Homo sapiens: one gene and its partner. The protein of the gene in region 2 purifies or fractionates together with the protein of the main gene of each other region. This does not show direct contact. Each region holds a gene or a part of one and is shown on either strand. Other genes may lie near its edges.

The links.
Region 1: the proteins of CA4 (region 2) and ALDH1A2 purify together in Homo sapiens (affinity purification with mass spectrometry; one large-scale study listed by BioGRID and IntAct). This does not show direct contact.

Annotation. Positions count from the first base shown.
Region 1 is NC_000015.10:57,995,285-58,000,241, forward strand, and holds part of ALDH1A2 (retinal dehydrogenase 2), read right to left. Parts: intron 1-4,957. UniProt on the Homo sapiens protein: Catalyzes the NAD-dependent oxidation of aldehyde substrates, such as all-trans-retinal and all-trans-13,14-dihydroretinal, to their corresponding carboxylic acids, all-trans-retinoate and all-trans-13,14-dihydroretinoate, respectively.
Region 2 is NC_000017.11:60,147,649-60,153,198, reverse strand, and holds the start of CA4 (carbonic anhydrase 4 preproprotein), read right to left. Parts: upstream 3,227-5,550; 5' UTR 3,165-3,226; coding exon 3,107-3,164; intron 2,435-3,106; exon of another isoform or gene 1,670-2,434; intron 1-1,669. UniProt on the Homo sapiens protein: Catalyzes the reversible hydration of carbon dioxide into bicarbonate and protons and thus is essential to maintaining intracellular and extracellular pH. May stimulate the sodium/bicarbonate transporter activity of SLC4A4 that acts in pH homeostasis.

The DNA.
Region 1 (4,957 bases), on a different chromosome or scaffold from region 2:
GCTGGTAGAAGCCTAACACTGGACATAGCATATTTCTGGATATATCTCTCAGACACCCAAATGCAGTATTGAGGAAAGGATCTCTAAGGCAAAATGAATGACAAATTTATGATACAAGAAGTCCTCAGGGTGGCAGAGGGGACAGCTGAAAAATATGTAAAAATTGAATTTTATGTTAAATATTAAAATAACATGTAGAACAGTTGTTTGATTTAAAAACTGAGTCAACAAACCTTTAAATAACTTTCTGAAGTATTAAAATAAACTAAGTAAAATGCTATTGGGCAAATTTAAAATGCTCGGCAACTGGAAAAAGTGAGGAGTAAAAGATATATTTCATAACTCAATCCAGGTGTCAAAATGTACTTCCTGGGTAGTGATGAGACATAGGCATGTCCAGGGCTATTTAAAGAAGGTAAAAGTCCATTTCTAAAAAGAACTCCATCAATAATCCAAAGCGTCTGCCCCCAAACTAGACATAGAAATGAGAATGTCCTAGGGGCTAAAAGAAAAAGAGCTTCAGAAAAACTTAATAACCTTGTTTTCCTTACAGGAGTAATAGGCAACTGAAATAATTATACAGGAAGTCCAAACCAAATTCATCTTTAGGAAAATGTCATTGCTTTTATCTGAATTATTTTAAATGGTTAATTAAAATTACCAAAGAATGGCTCATTTTTAGCAGATAGCTTTTCATTTTAAATACTGGGCAAAGTCTTTATTTTTCCCTCCACTGCCGGCCCTTAGGCCACTTCACTGATACTTGTTTTCTCTCTCAAAAGCAGTCCCCTAAGGCAAGTGAAAACACTCAGCTAATATTCATGAAAGCATAACTATTATAGGTGGAAATGAAGGTGGGGACAGGAGGACTGTGTGGGTCGGGAAAAGAGAAGCGATATGAATCAGATTGTTTATCACTGTCTCTCAACACACCTAAATCACATTTATCACACAAAATTGTTTTGACATATTCAAAATTATTTATTTTTTAAATAATTACATTAAAGTCTTGGCCTCTCTCTCTCTCTCTCTCTCTTACTCTCCCAGTGTCACTCTCTATCCTCTGGATCTCTGATCTCTACCCCCTCTTGCCATAATTATCTGTTTCCTCTTTTCAAGGAACTTTTATTCACATACAAGTATTTATAGGATCCTTTTATCCTCTTTTTTTTTATACAAACGGGATATTATTCAGTCTTTTATATTTTGTTTTTCCCTCTTTTTTTTTTTTTTCCTGTAAAGCTAGGACGTCTTTTTAGTGGCTGCAGGTTATTCCATGGGCTCAATAAACAATGTTACTACTGTAAACCCTCCTACTAAGGGACATAGAAGTCACTTTCAGTTTAGGCTATTATAAATAATGCTGCAAAGACTATCATTACAAACATATCTTTTCATATCTGTGGAATTTCTTGATCTAAGTGTATGTACATTTCAGATTTTCAAAAATATTGCCAAATCACCCTTCAGAAAAGTTTAACAATTCATAATTTCAACAACACGCTATTTTTCCTACTCTTTAACACTGAGGTTTTTCCAACATTTTCATTTCAGCTAATCTGATAGCTGGAAAACTGCAACTTGTTTTGATTTATGTTTAATGATAGAGTGAACATCTTTTCATGCTTATATTGTTTGCTATTTTTCTATTGGGTTATTCTTTTTAGCCATTTGAAGAGCTCTATGGATATTAAGGAAATTAGGCCTCTGTCATAATATTGCAAAGATTTTTCCCCAATCTGCTACTTATCTCTTGACTTTGTTTTATGTATATTTTAAATGGAAGAAATTCAGAAGTAGGCTGGATTCTGCAACTGTATGAAATTAATTTAAAATATCTATTACGAGAAAAAATAGCGAAGATGTTGCAACTGTCCATAGGATGACAGTATGAAGTCTGAGTAATACTTTAAACATCAAATTAACTATTTAGCTTTGTATGCAGATAACTAAAGAATCTTCTGGATATCATTCTTTACAAGACTACAAATTACCATGCTTCTTCAATTTGTAAATCTCTGAAAAGGTTTTTCATGAGGAGCAACACCACTGATCAATAAGCTAGAGTTTCATTTACAAGAAAATCTTCTGCAACTGAACTCTCTAAGTTGGTTAAGGTGATGGGTTCAGGTGGATAGTCACAGACCACAGAATCAGAGAGTAATGTCAAGAAAGAGTGCAAATGGGGCTGAGGAAAAAAATTGGAAGATGAACAGAAGAGTACACGTGTTTATTTTAGCAGCACATGTAGGAACCTGGAATGGTTCAGAAAAAAAAACTCACAAGGCAACTACACAAGCACTGCATGGCAATTCATAAACCATTTCCCCCTACACATTTTATGATGCTTAGACATTTAGTTGTTTTACTTAAATAATATCACAAGTTACCGAAAAAAGTGAAAGGGAAGAAAATGTAGACAAAAATCTTAAAAGTCGGACCTCATGAGGAATTGAGTTTGACTCCATAATTGTGTCTCAAGAGAAACTGAGTTATGAGGAATTAAAACTCTCTTGGATAAACCGTTCACATATTTGAAAAGCATTTAGCTACAGGCTAACACAGGGAAAGAGACAGAATCTTCTAGTCCCTACAGTTAGTCTAAGTAGCAAATTAAAAAATAAACGCTATTTTTGTGCTTGAACTCTTCCCAAAAGAGCACTGAGTTGAAGGGACAAAGAAAGGAGGCTACTTTCAATAAAATTCAACATTCCTTCAGGTTAAAAACTCTCAATAAAGTAGAGGCATTGATGGAACATACCTCAAAATAATTAAGAGTCATTTATGGCAAACTCACAGCCAATATCATACTGAACAGGCAAAAGATGGAAGCATTCCCCTTGAAAACTAGCACAAGACAAGGATGCCCTCTTTCACCACTCCTATTCAACATAGTATTGGAAGTTCTGGCCAGTTCTTTCTCAGGCAAGAGAAAGAAATAAAGGGCATTCAAATAGGAAGAGAGAAAGTAAAACTGTCTCTTTTTGCAGATGACATGGTCCTATATCTAGAAAACCCCATTGTCTCAGCACAAAAGCTTCTTAAGCTGATAAGCAACTTCAACTAAGTCTCAGGATACAGAATCAATGTGCAAAAATCACAACCATTCCTATACACCAACAATAGACAAGCAGAGAGCTAAATCATGAATAAACTCCCATTCATAATTGATACAAACAGAATAAAGTACCTAAGAAATACAGCTAATAAAGGAAGTGAAGGACCTCTTCAAGGAGAACTAAAAACCACTAATCAGGGAAATCAGAGAGGATACAAACAAATGGAAAAACATTCCATGCTCATGGATAGGAAGAATCAATACCATGAAAATGGCTATAATGCCCAAAGTAATTTAAAAATTCAATGCTATTGTCATTAAACTACCACTGACATTCTTCACAGAATTAGAAAAAATAACTTTAAATTTCATATGGAACCTAAAGAGCCCATATAGCCAAGACAATCCTAAGCAAAAAGAACAAAGCTGGAGGCATCATGCTACCTGACTTCAAACTATACTACAAGGCTACAGTAACCAAAACAACATGGTACTGGTACAAAAACAGACACACAGACCAATGGAACAGAATAGAGAAATCAGAGATAAGACCACACATCTACAACCATCTGATCTTCGACAAACCTGACAAAAACAAACAATGGGGAAAGGATTCCCCATATAATAAATGGTGCTGGGAAAACTAGCTAGCAATATGCAGAAAATTAAAACTGGACCCCTTCTTTACATCTTATACAAAAATTACCTCAAGATGAATTAAAGACTTAAGTGCAAAACCCAAAACTATGAAAACTCTACAAGAAAATCTAGGCAATACCATTCAGGACATGGGCATAGGCAAGATTGCATGATGAAAACGTCAAAAGCAATCGCAACAAAAGCAAAAATTGACAATTTGGATCTAATTAAACAAAAGAGCTTCTGCACAGCAAAAGGAACTATCAGAGTGAACAGCCTACAGAATGGGAGAAATTTTTTGCAATCTATGCATCTGACAAAGGTCTACTATCCAGAATCTACAAGGAATTTAAACAAATTTAGAAGAAAAAAATAACCCCATTAAAAAGTGGGCAAAAGGACATGAACAGACACTTCTCAAAAGAAGACAGTCACGCAGCCAAAAAACATGAAAAAAAGCTCATCATCAATGATCATTAGAGAAATGCAATCTAAACCACAATGAGAAACCATCTCACCCCACTCAGAAGGGCAATTATTAAAAAGTCAAGAAACAACAGATGCTGGCAAAGGTGTGGAAAAATAGGAACACTGTTCCTATTTCCCACTTTGTTTACATTCCCACTGTTGGTGGGAATGTAAATTAGTTCAACCATTGTGGAAGACAGTGTGGCAATTCCTCAAAGACCGAGAACCAGAAATACCATTTTACCCAGCAGTCCCATTACTGAGTATATACCCAAAGGAATATAAATCATTCTGTTATAAAGATACATGCATGTGTATGTTCATTGCAGCACTATTCACAATAGCAAAGACGTGGAATCAACCCAAATCCCCATCAATGATAGACTGGATAAAGAGAATGTGGTATATATACATCAAGGAATACTATGCAGCCATAAAAAGGAATGGGATCATGACCTTTGCAGGGACAATAGATGGAGCTGGAAGCCATTAACACAGGAACTAACACAGGAACAGAAAACCGAACATCACATATTTTCATGTATTGGGGGAGCTGAACACACATGGACACAGGAAGGGGAACAACAGACATTGGCACCTTTCTGGGGAGGGGTGGGGGAAGGCAGAATATCAAGATAAATAGCTAATGCATGCTGGGCTTAATACCTAGGTGATGGGTTGACAGGTGCAGCAAACCACCATGGCACACGTTTACCTGTGTAACAAACCTGCACAGGTAATCCAGAACTAAAATAAAATAAAGGGCCCTAGACCTTGTAATCTCACTTTGCA
Region 2 (5,550 bases):
GCCCAGCTAATCTTTGTATTTTTAGTAGAGACAGGGTTTCACCATGTTGACCAGGCTGGTCTCGAACTCCTGACCTCAAATGATCCACCCGCCTCGGCCTCCCAAAGTGCTGGGATTACAGGTGTGAGCCACCGTGCCCAGCCAACATTATTATTTTTAAAGCAAAATTAGGAATGCCTTTGCTCTCCAGATATCGGAGTATCTGGACCTTCCCAAGTCTGGGTCTGTGTAGTAAATATTATTAATTTGTTCCCTTAACTGCAAACATCTAGAGGCTAGAAATGCCTGACTTTCTGATAATGCAGCCCAGCAAATCTCGGCCTCATTTTCCTAGCTCTCACCCAAAATGGAGTCACTCTGGTTCAAACGCCTCTGACAGGTGCAGCCACCAAATTCCCAGTGCTGGTGACTAAGGAGATAATAAATCAGAGGGCATTTGCACCATGACAGTTCCTTGCCATAATCATCCCATGTCCCCACCCGCAGAGGTCTTGAAGGAGGAAGGGGTTTTGAAGATTGGGCTGGCCTCTTCTCTGACTGGAGGGCCCGGGGGCAGCCATTCCAGGAGAAGCCTCCCTTCAGCCAGCATCCCCAAGAGCCAGCTGCAAAGGGTGGAGCCCCCTGTAACTCGCCTCACAGCCTCCCTGGGGCCCATCTGGTCCAGGCTTAGCTTTTCTTAGGAATTTGGTCTTCCCTGGCTCTGGCCGCAGCTCCTAGGTTTGTAGTGGTGACCTGTGATCCACTGTCTTAATCATGGAGACTTTTGACCTGCTTGGCTGAACGCACTTGTAACTACCTTCTTCAGGAAGCAGCAGCCAGGAAAACATAATGGTGGTGAGGTCAAGGCCAGGGGTCAGGTCCATGTCGGTGGATGAGGGTGGGGTGCTGGTGGCAGGAGCACCCACCACTCAGGTTCCTGTCTTCGTTGAATGAGAGGGCCACCCTTGCAGGTAAGTACCAGCCCACTGACTCAGGCCACTCCCAAGAGGGCTTGGGAAGGAGAGGGGCTACCTACCCAGAGGTCTCGGTGTCCAGCGCCACATCCTACCTAGTCCATCCACCCTGACCAGAGGTTAGAGACCGAAAGTCAGTCGCCTGTCACCCAGCTACTGCCCCCCACACTGACTGACCTGCCACCCCTCCCCCTTATTTCAAGATGGCTGAAGAAGCCTCTCTAATGGACCTTGCTCACCCCACCTCCCCCTCTGAGGGACAGGGGATAATCCTGAAAAACAGCTCAGCACAACCCAAGTGTTTCCTGGGCAAAGTCTCAGTCGCTCCCGGCCAGGGGTCTGGGGCTCTGAAGGGGACCAAATATCCTCACCCGGCCTCTTGTCTCAATGGACAGAGATGCTCTGGGGGTCGCCATATGCAACCTGGTCCCTTCTCAGCTTGAGTCCTCCATAAGATGAATGGAAGGCAGGTCCCAGTCAGAAAGCCTTGGCACTAAAGGGGATAGCAGCTTGTGTGAGGGGTGAGCTGAGACACATTCCTGACACTGGCCCCAGGCTTGGGGGAGAGCCCCATAAACTTGGTATATGACACACCAGCCACGTGCCACACAGGCACCGCACTAATCACTTAAACCCATTATCTTATTCAAACGCTTAAAACCCCTGAAGTCAGAATGACAACACCTGTTTTGCAAATGGGACAGGAAGTGACTTACCCAAGACCACACAGCTACAAAGCACCAGAACTGCAAAGCATTTCTCTTTCTACTTTCTAGCTGCTTAGTAGGTTTCCAATGTCCAACCCTACAAATAAAAGTTTCCACATTCTGCTTTTTCTCTTTCTTCTCCCAGGGGCCCGGTGGAGAGGCTGCAAGGTGCCCCTCGACCCTCTAAGACAGCTCAGCCAGTCCCTGCTGCAAAGGGCACACGCTGGCTCCTCTCTGTGCAGAGGACACCTTCACCCCTCACTCCGCCGCTTTGAGGATGGAGCACCTAACTTGGGAGAGGAGGTTTCAGCCTGCGTGGACCCCAAGAACCATCCGAGGGGTGGTTGGGCTGAGAACTGGCAGAGGGGGTCTTCCGGTGATGGGGTCTGGGGTTGCAAAGAAGGTGCCTCCAGGATCGGATCCCTGTGCCCAGCCGCTTGAAGCGCCTTTAGCTTCTTATCAAATATTAACATGCCTTTCCTGCCACCTCCCACCTAGAGGAATAATTAAGAGCTCGGCTTCACCATTAATCTTTAAACGAAAATCACCCTGTCCGGAAAGACCGGCTCCGCAGAGGCCTTGGGGCTCCGGGTCCCCCACCCCCCGCCCCCGCCAGGCTCCCAATTCAGCGCTGGAGGTTAGGGAGGCCAGGGGAGCTTGCGACCCTCAGGGGCAAGGAACCCGTGTGGGAAGCGCGGCTTCCAGGACCCTGCCAGACCGCCCTTGCTCTGGCCGCGGGGCAGTCACCCAGCGCTGAGTCCCAGCGGGACGGACGGAAACCCACGGGCAGACGGAGGAGGCTGGGTGAGAAAAGAAGGCGTGCGTTGAGGCGGGTCCGAGAAGCATCCTTTTTTTTTTTTTTTTTTTTTTTTTTTTTTTTTTTTAAACGGAGCACCAGGCTGGAGTGCAGTGGCGTGATCTCACTGCAACCTCCACCTCCTGGGTTCAAGCGATTCTCGGGCCTCAGCCTCCCGAGTAGCTGGGATTACAGGCGTGTGCCACCACGTCCGGCTAATGTTTGTATTTTTGGTAGAGATGGGATTTCACCATGTTGGCCATGCTGGTCTCGAACTCCTGGGCTCAGGTGATCCACCCGCCTCTGCCTCCCAACGTGCTGGCATTTCAGGCTGGAGCACCCGCGCCCGGCCTGAGACGCATCCTTATCAGGGACTCCCAACTCGTCTCGCCGGGCCACGCGCACACACCCTCACCGCGCACACCCGTGCACACGCTCCCCCAGCCGGTGCTGACACGCGTGTGCACACACAAGCTCGCGCGCTGCCCAGTCCTCCCGCACCCTCGCGGCCCCCGGCGCACACGCAACCCGGGACCCCAGCGCCACCGACGCTCACCGGTCGCCCGCGGGGGGATCCTCTGCAGGGGCGGGAGCTGGGGGCACGGAGGGGACCGCCGAGGGGCACCTGGGGCCGGAGCCCGGGAGCTCACCTGCACTGGCCGATGGCCGCGCCGCGGAGAGGGCCAGGAGCGCCAGCAGCATCCGCATCTTGCGGGACAGCAAAGAGTCCTCTGAGCCGGGGGTCGCGCACCGAGGAGGCCGCCGCGGGTGCAGCGATCCTGCCGGCCTGGGTTTTATAGCGGAGCCGCGACGGGAGGGAGCCCCGACAGCTGGACGCGGGAGGCGGCTCCTCCCCCTGGCGGGGCCTGCCCTCCCCTCTCCACCTTCCCCTGTCCCTCATCTGAAATCCTCCGCTCTCCCCGGTCCCCCGCCCTGCCTGGCCACCTCTTGCCCTGTGCGCAAGGCCCCCTCACCCACTCCGCGTCCTCTCCACTCAGCAGCGGCGCCCTGCCCCTCCCCCATCCTACTCCTGGTCCCTGGTTTGGGAACAGGGACACGACACCACAAAGTGCTTGACCCACACAAAGATGAGTGCCCCATGATGACTTTGATCATTCTGGCGCCACCCCTGCGCAGTGGTCTTGAATGGGACCTTGGAATGGCCTTGGGGTGGGGGTGGGGGTGGGGGTGGAGATGGCCTCGAAGAGATGAGAGGCTGAGGGGCGTGTGATGCCGTTTGTTGAATCAGTGGCCGCAGAAAGGCTCTCCTATCTCTCTTTGGCAGTGGCCATTGATTCTCTGGGTCTCATCTCTTCTATTTCCTCCCAGGCTGCTCCAAACTTAATTTCTAAGCAGACCAAAGACCTTTCTTCGAATACAGAGCAAAGCTGTCCCTAAACTACTGCCCTTGCTGGTGTTTATGTGATGACCAGGGAGGGTTGATGGGGCAGAATTAAGAAATGGATTGTAAGAGGATTCGGTGAGGGAGAAGCTGATGGGGTCAAAGGGGAGGAGCTAGGTTCTTTGAGCCCCCCAGGTGGAGAGATGAGATGGGAAGAGAAGAGACTGGGGTCTGAATGGACCCCTGGTTCTCCCATCTGGCAAGACCTCCAGAGGAGTCCAGGGGAAGTTCCCTTAAGGGCGGCTCCAACATTTGGGGAAATGGGGTCCCCCCCATGCCCCCAAGCTGCCTCTTGTCTCCTCTCTTAGCTGTGCCCTCCTGCTACTGCAGGTCCTCTGTGTCCCACATGGGGTGGGGGCTTCTGTGGGAGTTTGGGAAGCTCAGGCTGGGGTGCGGGAGAGGGACGGGGAACCAGGCAGTGGACCTGGACCTCCTCCATCAATCCATCAACAGGAAGCCCCCTTTTTCTGGTTTAGCCACTCCCCATCCGCTGCCAACCTCTCAGTCCCTACCGACCTTCGAACCTGGGCTAGGGACTTCTGAAGGGGGATTGCCTCCCCCAGAAGGATTCAGGCAAAGATGCTTCCTCCTTGCTTAGGGTTGAGGCTGACTCCCCGCTCCTGGCCCAGGATCACACAGCCTCACAGAGCAGCTTTGATCCTACAGAGAGGCAGGAGGGAGGTGAGGGGGTGTCCATGCCAGGCTTAGGGCTCTATTGTCAACACCACTGTATAATGTAATCACCAGCCTGCGACCATGACAGCCACAGGAGGGATTCCACACCCAGAGCCTATTCTGGGGAGTGCATTTGTGTTCACAGGGCTATAAAAATGTCCCTTTCAGGACTGAGGAAGCCTGTTCCTGGGAATAAAAACCACCCCCAGGGAGTCCCTGTGACCTCTGGCCAGCCCCCTGATGAGCAGGGGAGAGGCTTGGGAAACTTTGGTGGGGTTAAGGGACTGTTGATCAATGATCCACTTTAAAGTTCATTGCATTCAGGCCCCCCAGGAGAGAGGGGGGCCCTGGGTGCATTTTGGGACCATAAAGATGGGTGAGGAGAACGAGTCCCTGGTAGGGCATCCCCTCTGAGGAATGCGGGAGGGGTAAAGCTATACACTCTCTTATGGGTGCATCTTAATTATGGGCACCACAGAGCCTGCACATTGGCGATGGGGTGGTGGACTGGTTCCTGCTCCATCTGCCATCTCTAACTTCAAGGTTACACAGGGTGAGTGGCCCTCTCTTCCTGTTCCTGGTCTTAACATTCTCAGCCTTATCTCCAGCCCTGACCCCAGTCCTGGCCTGCCATAAACCAGTCACCTGTCACTATTTAGACTACCTGGGGCCCTGCTTACCTGTAGGGGACAAGGCCTGATTTAGGGTCGTTAGAGCTGGAATGAGTGCTGACATGTCCCAGCGACTTACAGGGCCCATAAAGCTGCCAGCCCAGGCCACCTGAGTGGGAGAGCCCAGCCCAGCAGCCCCAGCCTCCTTCCTCTTACTCTGCAGAGGCCCCCAGTGTTCTGAGTTCAAGTCTTTGCTCTTCTTCTGACTCACGGATGACCTTGGGCAACTTTCCTGCACCCGGCTGATTGCAACTTCCTCATCTATAAACTGGAGATGGTAATCCCTGCCCGGCTGACCTCCACCAATAAACAGTTATTTGGAGTCTGCTGTGAACCAGGGCCTGCC